2 separate regions of the Homo sapiens genome follow, and region 2 is linked to region 1. Evidence: fine-mapped expression QTL. A gene starts in region 1. The other region holds a variant in brackets. All regions are shown on one strand. Distances are between the middles of the regions.

Evidence for each region.
Region 2: its variant is fine-mapped to the expression of C22orf39 in lung (TOPMed, PIP above 0.99).

Annotation. Positions count from the first base shown.
Region 1 is chr22:19,443,454-19,453,779 of GRCh38, reverse strand. It overlaps C22orf39 (chromosome 22 open reading frame 39), which reads left to right and starts at 6,069. Exons shown (of 3, transcript NM_173793.5): 1 at 6,069-6,115; 2 at 6,235-6,402; 3 at 9,390-10,326. The coding sequence starts at 6,092. The coding sequence ends at 9,515. It overlaps UFD1 (ubiquitin recognition factor in ER associated degradation 1), which reads left to right. Exons shown (of 12, transcript NM_005659.7): 12 at 3,036-3,869. The coding sequence ends at 3,110. It overlaps UFD1-AS1 (UFD1 antisense RNA 1), which reads right to left and starts at 6,346. Exons shown (of 2, transcript NR_186687.1): 1 at 5,455-6,346; 2 at 2,092-2,186. RefSeq lists a silencer at 6,124-6,523 and an enhancer at 5,971-6,873.
Region 2 is chr22:19,338,609-19,346,608 of GRCh38, reverse strand. All of the region lies in intron 24 of HIRA (histone cell cycle regulator), which reads left to right. All of the region lies in intron 5 of LOC105372859 (a long non-coding RNA gene), which reads right to left. Among named protein-coding and RNA genes, the nearest start is that of CLTCL1, 51 kb to the right of the region's middle. The variant C/T (reference allele first, on the strand shown) is at 4,781.

The DNA of each region.
Region 1 (10,326 bases):
TTCTCTAGCACTTGGGGTGGTTGGGGACAGAGACCACTGTGAAGTTTGCACACCTGGTCCTACTCACAACCACTTCTGGGCTCAATGTTCAAGTTGAAACAGCATTGGGCATTGGGACCTTTCAGGCTCAGAGGAGCAAACATAGTGGCCAGTCAGACCTCACCCTCCAGCTCCTCCTTCAGGCACCATCCAGGCTTCACCAGCTACAGGCTGCCTTTCTCACTAAAAGCCAGTGCCTGACTCCGACCTAAGACCTTAGCATGGGACGTCCCCCAGGCTGACTGTGACCTGACTGTTGCAAATTTACAGAAGGCAGGGGAGGCCAGTGGGCACAGCAGGCCTGTTTGACCATAAATATGTATTTAAGAAGTATATGTTTAAAGATGGGATTGAAGACATATTTAGCTCTATTCCATCCTGCAGCCCCACTAAGGCTGTGGCTAAAGGTCATGAGGTAAGAAAGACAGTGGAAGAGGAGGCAACTACAAGGCTTTGGAAGCCCCAGGTACCTTAGTAGACCATAGAAAGCCTAGAAGCAGTTCTGTGTAGATTGTGGAATTCTCAAAAGGCACCTCTAGAAATGAGGGACTAAAGACAGAATTCTGTTACTAAGCAGTTAGAGCTGCATTACCCTCCCTCCCCCATCCCAGAAGGCTGGAGGCTCGACTCCAGTAGGTCTCTAGACTACTATCTCTGAAGTGAAGGCCACAGTCAGAAAGCTTTCCATTCCAGCATCTAAATAATAGAGGATTTGTGGGAAGAACAGCCACAGAAACCAAAGGAGCAGAAATCATCAGGGAAATAGTTTCCCCAAAGATGGGCACAATTTTGCAGATTTGAAGGGCTCACTGAGTTCCAGCAAAATGAATGAAAATAGCCCCACTTTGAGGCAAAGAAAGATCCTAAAGCTTCTAGAGAGAGAACAGAGGTATCACCATGCATTAAGGACATCATCAGCCAAGCGCCATGGCTCACACCTGTAATCCCAACACTTTGGGAGGCTGATGCGGGAAGATCATCTGAGCCCAGGAGTTTGAGACCAGCCTGGGCAATATAGGGAGACCCTGTCTCTACAGAAAATTTTAAAAATTAGCCAAGCATGGTGGCACGCACCTATAGTCCCAGCTACTTTAATGCTGAGTTGGGAGCATCACTTGAGCCTGGGAGGTGGAGGCTGCTGTGAGCTGAGATCACACCACTGCACTCCAGCCTGGGTAACAGTAAGTCCCTGTCTCCCAAAAAAAGGGACATCATCTTAGCAGGACACAGAGGAAACTAGAAGATAGTGGAGCAATATACTCAAAATTCTGAGGGGAAATTTTTTCCAACCTAAAATTCTGTACCAACTCTTATGAGCTGGATTGTGTCCCTCCAGTGTTTCTGTGTTGAAGCCCTAACCCCCAGTAACTCAGATAGGGCCATTTAAAGAAGCAATTAAGTTAAAATAAGACCATTAGAGTTGGCCATAATTCAATCTGGTGTCCTTTTAAGAAGAGGAAATTTGGACATAGGAAGGGCCATGTGAGGACACAGCAAGAAGGCAGCCATCTGCAAGCCAAGGAAAAGGGTGTCAGAGGAAACCAAACCTGCTGACACCTTGATCCTGCACTTCTAGCCTCCAAAACTATGAAGAATAAATTTCTGTTGTTTGAGCCACCCTATCTTTGGCATTTTATATGGCAGCCCTAGCAGACTAACATACCAACCAGCCTATCAATGAAATATGAGATTAGAAAAAAGGAACTCACAAGAAGATAATCCTCATGCATCTTTTCTCAGGAAGCTCCTAGGAGGTGTTCCTCACTAAAATGAAGGAATAAGGTAGAAATAAGAAAGTCATAGAATCCAGGAAATAAGGAGCCCCCACTAACATGTACGGCACCTAGAGAAAGGCCAGTCCAGGTACGGCAGGGCGAAGGCCCAGGAGACACAGGTTTGTCAAAACAGATGAACTCCATGCAATGCAGGCTGTGATTGAATAGAGGAAGAAGCCAAACACAGCTATTGACACCAGGATGAATGGAAGGCTGTGCGGCAAAGGAAGACTAAATGCAGCTGTGACTCAAATTTACATGAATGTGACCACATAAATACTAAACAGTGCTCTATTGCAGGTATAACATGCTACAGTTAGTGGGGAGCCAGGTGCAGGGATGTGTGTTGAACATTCCAGAATCCTCTTCTTCCTAGGGAAAAGTTGAGATAATGCCTCAGACTGACTAGCAATAAAAGCATGTGAAAAAAAATATGTGCAGTTTTCAAAGGTTTGGGAAAAAACAATCCCTCTTTCTGCTGATGGAAGGATAGCTTAGTGGAATGTTTCTGAGGGCTGGTTGGTCTCTATATGTTAAAAGCATTAAAAGTGTGTACACACTTTGACCCAGGAATTTGAGCTCTAAAAAAAATCAGAGTTGTGTGCAAATACATTAAGCTGCTTACCACAACAATGTCCACTGGTAGAAAACTGGCCCTCCTACATCATGGAATTCTTTTTTACAGAATTCAGTTCTGTAGCCTTGGGAGTATACTAGACAGGAAGTTTATTGGCATGAGATTTCAGAATTAAGTGGGAAAACAATTCTTTAAGCATGTACAGAAAAGTGACCTGAAATGTTTTTGGGTGATGAACTTACAGACTTTTTTTTTTTTTTTTTTTTTTGAGGCAGGGTCTTGCTCTGTTGCTCTGCCATCCAGGCTGGAGCAGTGGCACAATCATAGCTCACTATGGCCCTGGCTCAAACCATCCTCCCGTCTCAGCCTCCCAAGTAGCTGGGATCATAGGCACATACCACACTGAGCTATTTTTGGTAGAGATGGGATCTCACTATGTTGCCCAGGCTGGTCTTGAACTCCTGGGCTCAAGTGATCCTCCCACCTAGGCCTCCTAAAGTGCTGGGATTACAGGTGTCAGCTATCGTGTCCAGCCTGAGATATTTCTTATGAGTAATGTGGATGGTACGTGAGTCCATAGAGTAAGGCATTTATTGTAAACCTCCAGGGAGTTTCTGAAAATAGTATCTTCTCTTCAAACCTAGGATGAAGCTGGAGGCAGATTCGTCGCTTTCTCTGGAGAAGGACAGTCATTGCGTAAAAAGGGAAGAAAGCCCTAAGTGAGGACTGTTGGCTGATTGGAAAATAATAAAAGAATCATTTGCAACATCTTGGCTTTTAGTTACTGGCACTGACAGGGACGAGCCTCATCAGAGAATACTCTGTTACTTAAGATTTATTTAGAGTTACCTAAGAATTATTAAGTTTGACTTGGAAGTGGAGCAGCAGGACTTTGTAGTTGTATGCTTGATTTGGGGAAAGACAAAGAGCTGTCCCTGAGGGCCTGTAGATAGCTGCCTCCTCACCTCTTCACGCTTTCAGCTTGAGGGGAGCTCCCACTGCCTCAGCAGGAGCAATTCTGCATCCCTAATTCTGTCAAAACCTATGAAGGTGACTAAATTGTCTAACATGAAGTGTTCTTTCTTTTTCTTCATTTATCCTTTCTTTTCCTACATCAATTGCATAGGTGTCAGTCTTTGGCCTAAAAAAAGGCTTTAAATAGACATGTGTTCTATAAGTAGTGGCTGTCCCACTACTGTGGCTGCAATTTAAGTATTTGACAAAGAATGTTTCTATTTTTATTTTACATATTTTTTTCAAAAACACCACTCAGAAGAACCTGATCTGAATGAGTTTGCACTTTTATTCTCATTTCATATGGACATAACTGGCTCCTTAGTGAACCTGTTCATAGTGAAACAACTCCATGGAGAAGCAAACATGTGAATGTTAGAATGAACAAATGCTAAAGAGATGTTCCTCTCCTTCTTCCCTACTCCCCAACTCCCAATTTTAATTTATTAAATCATCCAAGCTTCTGCTGGCCTGTATTTTTTATCAGTATTTATTTGGTCTTAGATCTTCACTTTCTATAACGTGAGATCTTTTGACATGCTAATCTGATTATTTTAAATTTGTTCCCATGAGCCACTGTGCCTGGCCCCATTGGGAATAATTCTAAGCCAAGAATTTCAAGTAAAAACAGGCAATAACTAAAGCCTAAATCTAAATGTTTGATTAGGTACTAACACAGACTGGTGGTTGGGCCTCTGACCATAACTGAAGGCCTGTTGGCAGGTGCTCCGTGTTCCATCTCACCATTAGAAAAGTGTCCCTCTGGGGCTTCTCCTGGAGAAAGTAGGAAGAAACAAGGCTGCCTGATCCCTAGGTGGCAATGGCTAAGCCCAGCAGGGTCCCCCATGAGCCAGGGCTAACCCTGCTTCCAGACATGGGGGTCCTGCCCTGGTCAGGGCCCCTCCAACACTCCAGAGAGGAGAGAATGGTGGCCCCAGGGTCTATCCACGTCTTCAGTGAAGAGTGTCTATGAGTGTCATGATGTTCAGTACTTGGCCTGTGGCACAAACCATCATCACTGGAAATGGGCGTGGTTTTGGAAGGCATGAGCACTGTGGGGACTTACCTGAGCCTCCACTGACAAAGTCTCAGTTTTACTAGCAGAGGGAGAAACCCTTGGTGGGTAGACAGCCTTCATTTGCAGGATCACATCAGCTAACAGACTGTCACTTTATGCATAATGAAGAATGTTACAGTACCTCTGGCTCTGGGTTTTTGTCTTCACTAAGCAACACCTGCTGTGTATGCAGTGAAACGCCTGGTCCTTTGCTGGAGGCACACTCCCCTGCCTGGACCAGGATGGATTCCATTGCAGAGCCTTTTAATGACACAGTGGGGCCAGTTGGAGCACTGATCCTGGTCATTACTCCTGCACCCTGGCCTGCAGCCTTCCTCTCAGTGTCTTATTTGGGCTTGGTCCTTGAGCCGGCTGCCTCAACAGCAGGACCCCTGGTAAAACTGCAGCTTTCTGATCCACCTCCAGGGAGTCTGTCCCAGTGTCATTCCTGGGACTGGCCCAGCAGTCCCAGGATTTGTATCAGTGGATACTGAGGATTTGTTATCAGTGAAGTGGGAGAACCGCAGCATAGGTACTGCAGGGCGTTTCTGCAAGCCCACCAGCCTCCTCTTTACTTGCCTTTGTTGCCTCTTGTGCATTGCTCCTTTTTATAAACGTCCCAGCCAGGCACTGGCGCTCCGCCTATAATCCTAGCACTTTGGGAGGCCAAAGTGAGAGGGTCGCTTGAGGCCAAACTAGCCTGGGTAACTTAGCAAGACCCCATCTTTACAAAAAAAAAAAAAAAAAATTAAAAATTAGCCTGGTGAGGCTGTGCATGCTTTTGGTCCCAGCTGTTCGGAGTCCAGGAGTTTGAGGTTGCAGTAAGCCATGAACACGCCACGCCACTGCACTAAGCCTGGGTGACACAGCAAGACCCTGTCTCGAAAAATGAATAAGGTAAATGTTACATGTCTCCCGCACCCTTAGAATAGAACTACAGACATCCAAGCCACTCCTACCCCGCTCACCCCTGCTACACACCGCCTCCATACCTTTGACCGGCCTATGGCTGTACTCGGATTGCATTCTCAGCCTCCACTTCAAGCCTGCGTTCCCTGGGGAGGTCATTCAACCCTAGATCCACCATATGTCATGCCCAACCAATCTCAGTTACTTTGCGAGTTCACCTCCATCCTGAGTGGACGCTCAAGCAAGACTGCTGGAGCTGCAGATCTGGGAGGTTCGCTGCACCACCTTGATGCTCAGTATGTACTTTTGAAAATATACCGGATTGTTGAGATTTGAGAAAATCTCATAAAGCTGCTGAAAAGAACTGGCCAGAGCCGTGTGATTTGAGAGGCGGCTGACGTAAGGTAGCTGCGCGGCCCAGGATGCCCGCCTGGCCCGGGGTGAATGGCGCTGTCGTCGCGGTGGTCGCGTAGGCTTCGCGCCAGGTCTCGCCCCGGATTTACCCTGCGACCCCGGCCCTCCGCGCGCGCCGCAGCCGCCCTCGGTTGCTATTGGTTGCTCGTCCTGTTTGTCGGCGCTTCTCGAAGAAGGGGGCGAAGACGTGATTGAATGTGTCGGTGCTCATTAGTTCTTCTGTCAGTCGATCACGAGGTGCCGTTTTCTTCATTTTTCATTGGCTGGCGGACTGAGGGGCGGGCTTGGCGCGCCGGTCGCCCAGACATGGCGGACGGCAGCGGCTGGCAGGTGAGTGTGCTGGGTCGGAGCCGGGAACCACCGGGGTCTTCCGGAGGGAGGGAACGGGACTGGCTCGGGGCGTAGGGCGCGGCCGCCGGGCCCCGCTCAGGCGCCGCCTCTCGCCGCAGCCGCCGCGCCCCTGCGAGGCCTACCGCGCCGAGTGGAAGCTCTGCCGCAGCGCCAGGCACTTCCTACACCACTACTACGTCCACGGCGAGCGGCCGGCCTGCGAACAGTGGCAGCGCGACCTGGCCAGCTGCCGCGACTGGGAGGAGCGCCGGAACGCCGAGGCCCAGGTGCGCCGGGAGGGAGCGGGGCGGCGCTTCGGAGCGCCTTGCGGGGCCCAGCTTTCCCCACCCCTCCACGCCCCATGCCCCGCGACCTAGCCGGGGACTGACGGGGTCCCTATCCTCCTCACGCTTCCTTTCTTTTGAGAGATTGTGTAAATTAGCATATCAACAGGACTTTCAGAGGGCGTGAAAGACAAAGGAGGAGACCAGCGAGGAGGGGGTGTAGAGTGGTTTAGAGAGGGAAGAGGGCAGCCGTCCGGTGTTAGGGTCATCAGCTGGCCTACGCAGGAGGTGATGTTGCTGAGTCCTGAGTGACCAGGAGCCAGCCTTCATCCAGCCCCGGTAGACACCGCTGAGAAACAGATAAGGCCTGGGTTCCTGAAGCAGAGGGTAGGTGGATGGTTGGAGAGCGGTATACCAGGGACCTGGCGGGCCTTTTGATACGGAGTTTAGAGTTTAGTCTAAAGTGTGCTGGGAGGCATAATTCGATTTATATCTTTAAAAGATCAGTCTGTTAGCAAAGTGTGGTGGCGTGCACCTGTGGTCCCAGCTACTTGGGAGGGTGAGGCGGGAGGATCGCCTAAGCCCAGGAGTTCAAAGCTGCAGTGAGCTATGGTCACACCACTGCACACCAGCCTGGATAACAGAGGGAGACCTGTCTCAGGGGGGAAAAAAAAGAGAGAGGGTAAAAGAAGTTCAATCTGTTTGCTAGGGTGTAGAGAATATATTACAGGAGCAGAGAGACCGGTAAGGAGGTGGTTCTAGTTGTTTTTTCGTCCAGCAAATATGTACCACATTGGGTGCTCTTGGGGATGCACGAGTGATAAGAAGAGTCTCTGCCCTCCTGGCACCCACACTGTAGTGTAGAATACAGTGCTACGGTGGACCCCTTGTGGGAGAGGAGATGGAGAGAAGCCAGCCGAAAGGTGCGAGGCTCATGGGGAGTGCCAAGGAATGAGAATCAATGGGACTGATCAACACTTCAACATTATTAAGTGTATACAGTGATCTGAAAGAGATGAACTGATGTGGAAACCAGACTGCTGTATAAAAGAAAATGATGACTATTCCATAATATGTGAAAGTCAAAAAAAGTAAGAAAGCTGACAGCTTATATAGCAAGAGATTGATAACTTTAATGTATATATATGTGCGTGTGTGTGTATAAAGAGCTGTTATATATATATCAATAAGAAATATAGGGATTATTTCAGAATGGAAAAATGGCCAAAGGACACAAAGAAGCAATTCATTAAAAAAGAAAGCCAGCTGGGCATGGTGGTGGGCACCTGTAATCTCGGCACTTTGGGAGGCCGAGGCAAGGGGATCGCTTGAGCCCAGGAGCTTGAGACCAGCCATGGGCAACATGGTGAGACTCCATCTTTATAAAAATAATAAAAAAGGAGAAAAGCCTGGGCATGGTGGCTCATGCCTGTAATCCTAGCACTTTGGGAGGCCGAGGTGGGCAGATCACCTGAGGTCAGGAGTTTGAGACCAGCCTGGCAACATGGCGAAACCCCATCTCTACTAAAAATACGAAAATTAGCCACGCATGGTGGCAAACACCTGTAATCTCAGCTACTCGGGAGGCTGAGATAGGAGAATTGTTTGAACCTGGGAGGCGGAGGTTGCAATGAGCCGAGATCGTGTCACTGCACTCCAGCCTGGGCAACAGAGTAAGACTCCCTCTCAAGAAAAAAAAAGAAAAAATCAAATGGCCAGGTGTCAGGTATATAAGTCTAAATGACAGTAACAGCAGAAAGTGGTGTTGATAGAGGTTTGAAGAATTCTGGGTAGTTGTGCAGTGTTGGTGGGGGTGTCAGGTGTTCTGATTATGTAAATGTCAGATACATACCTTTTGACCTTAAGTTTTACTTCTGGAACTTTATCCCAGGGAAGTAATTGGATAACAGTGTACAGTTAAAAGTTAGAATGCTAATTATGTTTTTGATACTGCAAAAGCTGAAAACAACCTAAATTTCACTAATAGACATTTGACCAAATAGCTTTTTCCACAAAGTGAAATACCAGATAGCCTTTGAAAAGAATGGTCGGTCATCTCCCTGGGTATGGAAAAGTGCCTACAGTGTATTGTTTAGTGAAAAGAAAGCAGGAAGTAGACTAGCCAGCAAAAGATTATCCTATCTTTAGGGAAACATGTTAGCTCTAAAATGTGGACCAAAAAAAGATATCAGGGAAGCTGTTAACTGCCGCATTGGGAATGGACATTTGGGAATCTTTAATATTCTGTACTACATTTCTGATAGCTTTTTAAACACGATCAAAATATTTTATTTGAGGCAATAGAGCTTGAACAAAGACAGACATGTAGACAGATTAAGTTATCTGTGTAAAGAGGCTCACATAGCACCTGATACCTACCAAGGGCTGACAGCAAAGGTCACCCATGTTGTGATACACTGACTTGTGTCTGTATTGGGAGACAGTAGCCAAGAGAAGCTGATGGGTTAAGTGGCACTTGTGGCACCACTCAGGCGGGTGGTCTGTCCTCTGGACTCTTCCCACCCTTCCAGGATACCCAGGACATGTATTTCTTCCCCGTCTTCCTCCCTTCTCCCTAACACACTCCTCCCTGCAGCTCCCCACAGCTGCTCTCTCAGACTCTTCTCTCCTCTCCACCCAGCACCCCCAGGCTCACTCTCAGCAGGTGAATATGCCCCAGACTCACGAGGTCAACCAGAGCCATTGAGCCCTGAGGTCCAGGAGAAGATATTTAAAAATTCCTCAAATTATTATGACCTATTCAGTAGTTTTTCACAGTAGCTTGTGAGAAAAAAAATGATCTCCATCTCTGTGCGCTAATATGGAAGAATCGCCAAGGTATAGTAGGTGGAAGCAGCTGTGCTGCAGAGTGGTGTGTACCATAGGCCCTGCCTGTCCATCTGTGTTTCAGAGGGTGATGAGAGGGGGGAGGTACAGGGGTCTTGAGGGTGCTCAGAGCCTGGGGAGTGACTAGAGTCTCATTTGCACAGCAATCCCTCTGTGAGAGCGAGCGGGCACGAGTCCGGGCTGCACGGAAGCACATCCTGGTGTGGGCCCCGAGGCAGAGCCCCCCTCCAGACTGGCATCTCCCTCTGCCACAGGAGAAGGACGAGTGACAAGCATCCCTGCCATTGGCCTGTGCAGCTTCCTCAGTCTGTTTCAAGTTGCTGTTGCACAGCCCTGGGGACTGTGACCAGCCTACACAGTCTGGTGGGTCCCTGTGAGCTCTTGCTCACAGGAACATGGAGCAGGACATTGCTAGCCCTACTTGCCCACCCCTCACCTGCATGCAGGATACCCTGACACTGCGATGTTCTGCAGGACAATTGCACCGCTTTAGAGCTTCCAGGAGGCCAAGCATTATGGCAGGTACTTGTGAGCAGCCAGGTCAGGCTGGGCATGGTAGCATAGGAGATGGCGGTCCTGAGGTCTAGGCTTCTCAGGTAAACTGAAGGGTAGCCCTGACCTGTGTGGACACACAGGTGGGTCATAATGAGGTAGCTAAACAGTTGTGCCACTGTGAATGTCTTTCCTAGTCCTTGGGAAACTGCCTGCCACGTCCCAGGTTTGGTGAGCATTGTGAGTGCTCACACTCTGCTCCACTCGCTCAGTTCCACTGCACATGCAGGCAGGTGTGCCGAGCAGGTAGGGCTTGCTGGCCCCTCTGCACCAGCAGGCTTCACTTCTTAGGCTCCCAGGTCGGCCCCTGGAGACTCTGGTTTTTAAGAAATGCACACAGCTACAGAACACACAACCTTGCATAAAGAGGGTTTGTGGACTCAGCTGAAGAAATCCAAGTCCAAGACATATGGAATTAAGCACTCCTTCCCTCAAAATTTCCCCTGGTGGTTAATGTATCAAAAGCTATTTCATCTGATTTCAAATAGAAGCTGAAAATTAAGTTCACACTTGTTAGATTTTGTGTGT
Region 2 (8,000 bases), 110 kb after region 1:
GGCTGGGAAAATGAGCAGGTTTTCTCCCTCTGTACAAAGAATATGTAAGAGAAGAGGATTTAGAGCAGACGTAGACATAGCCAATCCCAGTGTCTTCTGCCAGGTCCTCTCCTGATCTCAACACTATTCTGAATTTGTTCCTTTTTTTCTGTATGTTTACTGTCTTTTCATCTAGATGTTGGGGCAGAGGAGATGAGTGAGCATGAGCCTTCTGTGCTCTTCTTGGGTTTATTTATCAACACTCTTTTATTTTATTTATGTGTTTATTTGAGACGAAGTCTCTCTCTGTCACCCAGGCTGGAGTGTGGAATGCAGTGGCCCACCTCAGCCTCCCAAAGTGCTGGGATTACAGGCGTGAGCCACCGTGCCTGGCCTTATTTATCAACATTTATGGTGAGAATTGGTCATTCAAGTGGAACTGATCCTTCAAATAACTGGGAAAATATAGCTGTGGTTGGAGGGTGGACTTCCAACCAGCCATGCTGACTCAGCAGCCCTCCCAAGAAGGCTTGTTAGGAGAGCATCATTTCACATGCTTAAGAGCCGCTTGTGTTTCCCTTTTTTGAACTATCTATTGAAATACTTGTTGCCATTTGTTTTTCTCAATGGTTTGTAGGAACTCTATGTATATTATAGGAGCTCTTTATATACTCTGATTTGAGCTGCCAGTGCACCACAGGGACACCAAAGGTTCAGATTTCTTTCAACTTCAAGGATCCTTTGCATGGTTCAGTGTGCATGGGAGGAAAATGAGAAGCAGAAGGTTGGGGCACTAAGCAAACACCTTTCAGGTTCCTGGGCTTTGTTCTGGCTCCAGCCTCCCCAGCCAGGCCCTGTTCTTAGGAAGCCTCCCTTTGCTGTGGTCTTCAGTGTAAGACAGGGGTCCCCAACCTCTGGGCCACAGACCAGTCAGCAGCAACATTAAATTCTCATAGGAGCACAAACCCTATTGTGAACTTCACATATGAGAGATCTAGGTTGTGTGCTCCTTATGAGAATCTAATGCCTGATGATCTGAGGTGGAACAGTTTTATCCTGAAACCGTCTTCCCCTCCCCCACTGGTCCATAAAAAAAAACCAGTCCTGGGTGCCGAAAAGGTTGGGGACTGCTGCTGTAAGACCTGTGGCAGTGGCCAGAGAGGTGGTGATTAAGTTGTGTGTTGCAGGCTGTACAAAGAGCTATACATCGCATCCTGAAAGAGTGGAAAAACCATCCTTTACTGAGAGCCGAAGGGTGAGGAAATATCAATAATACTTGGCTGCTCTTTACATTGCCTTCAGGCCAGAGGGCAAGTCCTCTTGCAGCTTCTTCCTAGTACCACAGGCAGGCAGAATGTTTTGCTTTGTTTATAGTAGTTTTTCGCTGAATCTTTAGGGTTTTCCATATATAAGATCATGTCATCTGTGAACAGAAATAATTTTACTTCTTTTTTCCCAATTTGGTTGCCTTTTATTTCTTCTCCTTGCCTAATTGATCTGTCTAGGACTCTTAATACTACGTTAAATATTAGTGCTGGAAGCAGGCATCCTTCTCTTGTTCCTGATATTAAAGGAAAAGCTTTTAGTCTTTTACCATTAAGTACGATGTTAGCTGTGGGCTTTTTATTTATGGTCTTTACTATGTCGAGATAGTTTTCTTCCATTCCTAGTTTGTTGAGTGCTTTTATCAAGAAAGAATGTTGCATTTTCTCAGATGCTTTTTCTGCATTAAGATGATCGTGTCATTTTAAAATTTTCTTTTATTTCATTAATGTGATGTATTACAGTGATTGGTTTTCATATGTTAAACCATTCTTGCATTCAAGGAATAAATCCCACTTGGTCATGGTGTATAATTCTTTTAATGTACTTTGGAATTCTGTTTGCTGGCATTTTGTTGAGGATTTTTGGGTCACTGTTTACAAAGGATATTGATCTAATAGTTTTCTTGTAGTATCTTTGTCTAGCTTTGTCAGGGTAATGCTGTCCTCATAGAATGAAATAGGAAGTGTTCCTACCTATTTTGGAAGGAGGATTGGTGTTAATTCTCTAAGTGTTTGGTAGAATACATCAGAGAAGCTATATGATCCTAGGCTTTTCTTTATGAGAGGGTTTGTTTTATTGATTCAGTTTTCTTGCTCATTAGAGATCCGTCCAGATTTTTAATTTCTTTATGAGCCAGTCTTGGTAAGTTGTTTCCATTTTATGTAGGTTATCAGATTTATTGTCATATAGTTGTTCATGCTGTTCTCTTATTTATAATCTTTTTTATTTTTGTGGCATTGGTTGTAATGTCCCTGCTTTCATTTTTGATTTTCATTATTTGGATCTTGTCTCTCTTTTTATTATGTAGTCTAGCTAAAAGTTTGTCAATTTTGTTCATCTTTTCAAAGAATCAACTTTTGGTTTCATTGATTATCTCTATTATTTTCCATTTATCTTGTCCCATTATCTTTATTATTTTCTTCTGCTAGCTTTAGGTATAGTTCTTTTTCTAGTTCCTTAAGGTGTAATGTTAGATTATTGATTTGAGATCAGCTTTCACTGCATACTGTAAGTTTTGGTATGTTGTATTTTCATTTTCATTTGTCTCACTTTGTTTAATAGTGTGTTTTTTCAGCCAGGCGTGGTGGCTCACACCTGTAATCCCAGCACTTTGGGAAGCTGAGGTGGGAAGATCACTTGAGGTCAGGAATTCGAGACCAGCCTGAGCAACATAGCAAGACTCTCTCTCTCTCTCTCTTTTTTTTTTTTCCCCTCACTGTGGCCTCAACCTTCTGGCTCAATCAATCCTCCTGCCTCTGCCTCCCGAGTAGCTGGGATTACAGGCGTGCACCACCACACCCAACTAATTGTTGTATCTTTTGTAGAGATGGGGTTTTCTCCATGTTGCCCAGGCTGGTCTCAAATTCCTAGGCTCAATCAATCCACCCGTCTCAGGCTCCCAAAGTGTTGGGATTACAGGTGTAAGCCACCACACCCAACCAACTCCATCTGTTTTTATAAAAATACATGAAATTTAAAATAACAGTGTGTTTTCCAACTTCCACGATGTTGTAGATTTTTGGAGACAGAGTCTGACTCTGCCACCCAGGCTGGAGTACATTGGTGTAATCTCGACTTACTTCAACCTCCACCTCCCAGGCTCAAGTGGGCCTCCCACCTCAGCCTCCTGAGTAGCTGGGACCACAGATGTGCGCCACCATGCCTGGCAAATTTTTTATTTTTATTTTTTTTCTTGGTAGAGGTGGGATTTTGCTGTGTTGCCCAGGCTGGTCCCAAACTCCTGAGCTCAAGCAATCCACCTACCTCAGCCTCCCAAAGTGCTGGGATTACAGGTGTGAGCCACTGCACCTGGCCTCTTTCTTTCTTTTGAATATGTCATCCCACTGACTATGCTGATAATCTTATTGAATATCCTATTTACATGAGTTGCTTTTTTTCTTTTTTTGACATTTTAGTGCACCCATCACCTGAGCAGTGTACACTGTACCCAATGTGTAGTCTTTTATCACTCACCCTCTTCACCCTTCCCCCTGAGTCCCCAAAGTCCATTACATCATTGTTATACCTTTGCATCCTCATAGGTTAGCTCCTACTTATAAGTGAGAACATATAATGTTTGGTTTTCCATTCCTGAGTTACTTCACTTAGAATAATGGTCTCCAACTCCATCCAGGTTGCTGTGAATGCCATTATTTCATTCCTTTTTAAGGCTGAGTAGTATTCCATGGTGTATATATACCACATTTTCTTTATCCACTCATTGGTTGATGGGCATTTAGACTGGTTCCGTATTTTTGCAGTTGCAAATGGTGCTGCTATAAACGTGTGTACAAGTGTATTGTTCACATAATGACTTCTTTTCCTCTGGGTAGATACACAGTAGTGGGATTGCTGGATCAAATGGTAGTTCTACTTTTAGTTCTTTAAGGAATCTCTGGCCAGGTGCAGTGGCTCATGCCTGTAATCCCAGCACTTTGGGAGGCTGAGGCGGAAAGATCACCTGAGGTCAGGAGTTCAAGACCAGCACAGCCAACATGGTGAAACCCTGTCTCTACTAAAAATACAAAAAATTAGCCAACCATGGTGGCGCATGCCTATAGTCCCAGCTACTCAGGAGGCTGAGGCAGGAGAATCACTTGAACCCAGGAGGCAGAGGTTCCAGTGAGCCGAGATCGTGCCACTGCATTCCAGCCTGGGTGACAGAGTGAGACTCCATCTCCAGAACGAGTCCCCATACTGTTTTCCACGGTGGTTGTACTAGTTTACATTCCCACCAGCAGTGTAAAAGTGTTCCCTTTTCACCACCTCCATGCTAATATCTATTTTTTTTATTTTTTAATTATGGCCATTCTTGCAGGAGTAAGGTGGTATGTCATTGTGGTTTTGATTTGCATTTCCCTGATAATTAGTGATGTTGAGCATTTTTTTCATATGTTTGTTGGTCATTTGTATATCTTCTTTTGAGAATTGTCTATTCATGTTCTTTGTCCACTTTTTAATGGGGTTATTTGTTTTTATCTTGCTGATTTGTTTGAGTTCCTTGTAGATTCCAGATATTAGTCCTTTGTCAGATGCATAGTTTGCAAATATTTTCTCCCACTCTGTGGGTTGTCTGTTTACTCTGCTGATTATTTCTTTTGCTGTGCAGAAGCTTTTAAGTTTAATTAGGTGCCATCTCTTTATCCTTGTTTTTGTTGCATTTGCTTTTGGGTTCGTAGTCATGAACTATTTGCCTAAGCCAATGTCTAGAAGAGTTTTTCCGATGTTATCTTCTAGAATTGTTGTGGTTTCAGAT[C/T]GTAGATTTAAGTCTTTGATCCATCTTGAATTGATATTTGTATAAGATGAGAGATGAGGATCCAGCTTCATTCTTCTATATGTGGCTTGCCAGTTATCCCAGCACCACTTGTTGAATAGGGTGTTTGTTCCCCACTCTGTATTTTTGTTTGCTTTGTTGAAGATCTGTTGGCTGTAAGTATTTGGCTTTATTTCTGGGTTCTCTATTCTGTTCCATTGGTCTGTTTGCCTATTTTTATACCAGTACCATGCTGTTTTGGTGGTAACTATATCCTTGTAGTATAGTTTGATGTCGGGTAATGTGATGCCTCCAGCTTTATCTTGCTTTGGCTATTTGGGCTCTTTTGTTCCATATGATTTTTTTTTTTTTTTTTTTTTTTTGAAACAGGGTCCCACTCTGTCACCCAGGTTGGAGTGCAGTGGCACAATCTCGGCTCATGGCAAACTCTGCCTCCAAGGCTCAAGTGATCCTGCACCTCAGCCTCCTGAGTAGCTGGGACTACAGCATGTGCCAGCACACCCGGCTAATTTTTGTATGTTTTGTAAAGATAGGGTTTCACCATGTTGTCTAGGCTGGTCTCGAACTCCTGGGCTCAAGTGATCTGCCCATTTTAGCCTCCCAAAGTGCTGGGATTACAGACGTGAGCCACCACACCCAGCTGATTTTTGTATATTTTGTAGAGACAGAGTTTCGCCATGTTGCCCAGACTGGTTTCGAACTCCTGGGCTCAAGTGATCTGCCTACCTTAGCCTCCCAAAGTGCTGGAATTACAGGCGTGAGCCACCACACCCTGCTGTGGTTTCTTGTGAATTTTAGGGTTGTTTTTTCTAGTTCTGTGAAGAATAATCATGGTAGTTTGATGGGAATTGCATTGAATCTGTAGATTGCTCTTAGCAGTATGGTCATTTTTAATTTTACCTACCATGAGCTTTAGATGTGTTTCCATTTATTTGTGTTGTCTATGATTTCTTTCAGCAATCAGTTTTTCAGTTTTTCTTGTAGAGATCTTTCACATCCTTGGTTAGGTATATTCCGAAGTATTTTATTTTATTTTATTTGCAGCTATTGTAACAAGAGGTTCTTGATTTGATTCTCAGCTTGGTCATTGTTGGTATACAGCAGTGTTACTGATTTGTGTACATTGATTTTGTACCCTGAAAGTTTACGGAATTCATTTATTAGATCTAGGAGCTTTTTGGATGAGTCTTTAGGGTTTTCTAGGTATACGATCATATCATTGGCAAACAGCGATATTTTGACTTCCCCTTTACATATTTGGATGCCCTTTATTTCTTTCTCTTGTCTGTTTGCTCTGGCTAGGACTTCCAGTACAATGTTGAATAGCAGTGGTGACAGTGGGCATCCTTGTCTGTTAGAGTTCTCAGGGGGAACCCTTTTATCTTTTCCCTTTTCGGTATAAAGTCAACTGTGAGTTTGTCATAGTGGCTTTTATTACCTTGAGGTATTTCCATTCTATGACGGTTTTCCTGAGGGCTTTAATCGAAGGCATGCTAGATTTTGTCAGATGCTTTTTCGGCATCTATTGAGATGATCATATGATTTTGTTTTTAATTCTGTTTATGTGATGTATCTCATTTATTGACATGTGTACGTTAAGTCTTCCCTGTATCCCTGGTATGAAACCCACTTGATCATGGTGTATTATCTTTTTGATACACCATTTGATTCGATTAGGTAGTATTTTGTTGAGGATTTTTGCATCTATGTTCACCAGGGATATTGGTCTGTAGATTTCATTTTTTGTTATGTCCTTTCCTGGTTTTGGTATTAGGGTGATACTGGCTTCATAGAGTGATTTAGGGAGATTCCCTCTTTCTCTGTCTTTTGTAATAGCTTCAGTAAGATTGGTACAAATTCTTCTTTGAATGTTCAATAGAATTCAGCTGTGAATCCATCTGGTCCCAGACTGTTTTTTTGTTGGCAATTTTTAAATTACTGTTTCAGTCTTGCTACTTATTATTGGTCTGTTCAAAGTTTCTATTTTTTCCTGAATGAATCTAGGAGGGTTATATATTTCCAGGAATTTATCCATTTCCTCTAGATTTTCTAGTTTGTGTGCATAAAGGTGTTCATAGTAGTCTTGAATGATCTTTTCTATTTCTGTGGTATCAGTTGTAATATCTTTCATTTTGTTTCTAATTTAGCTTAATTGGATCTTTTTTTTTTTTTTTTGAGACGGAGTCTCGCTCTGTCGCCCAGGCTGGAGTGCAGTGGTGCATCTCGGCTCACTACAACCTCTGCCTCCCAGGTTCAAGCAATTCTCAGGCCTCAGCCTCCCAAGTAGCTGGGACTACAGGCATGCGTCACCACACCCAGCTAATTTTTTTCTATTTTTGATAGAGACGGGGTTTTGGCATTTTGGCCAGGCTGGTCTTGAACTCCTGACCTCAAGTGATCCTCCTGCCTTGGCCTCCAAAATTGCTGGGATTACAGACACGAGCCACCGTGCTTGGCCTCTTTCATACTTTTTGATGTAAGCATTTAATGCTATCAACTTTCCTCTTAGCACCACTTTTGCTGTGTCCCAGAGGTTTTGATAAGCTGTGTCATTATTCAGTTCATAAAACTTTTTAATTTCCATCTTGATTTCATTGTTTACCCAAAGATCATTCAGGAGCATATTTTTTAATTTCCATGTATTTGTATAGTTTTGAGGGTTCCTTTTGGAGTTAATTTCCAATTTTATTTTACTGTGGTCTAAGAGGGTACTTGATATAATTTCGATTTTCTTAAGTTTATTGAGAGTTGTTTTGTGGCCTATCATATGGTCTTTCTTGGAGAATGTTCCATGTGCTGATGAAAAGAATGTATATTCTGCAGTTGTTGGGTAGAATGTTCTGTAAATATGTGTTAAGTCCATTTGTTCTAGGGTATAGTGTAAGTCCATTGTTTCTTTGTTGCTTTTCTGTCTTGATGACCTGTCTAGTGTTGAAGTCCCCGCTGTTACTGTGTTGCTGTGTATCTCATTTCTTACGTTGAGTACTAATTGTTTTATAAATTTGGGAGCTCCCGTGCTAGGTGCATATATATTTAGGATTGTGATATTTTCCTGTTGGACTGATCCTTTTATCATTATGTAATGTCCCTTTTTGTCTTTTTCAACTATTGTTGCTTTAAAGTCTGTTTTGTCTGATATAAGAATAGCTATTTCTGCTCGCTTTTGGTTTGTATTTGCATGGAATATCTTTTTTCACCCCTT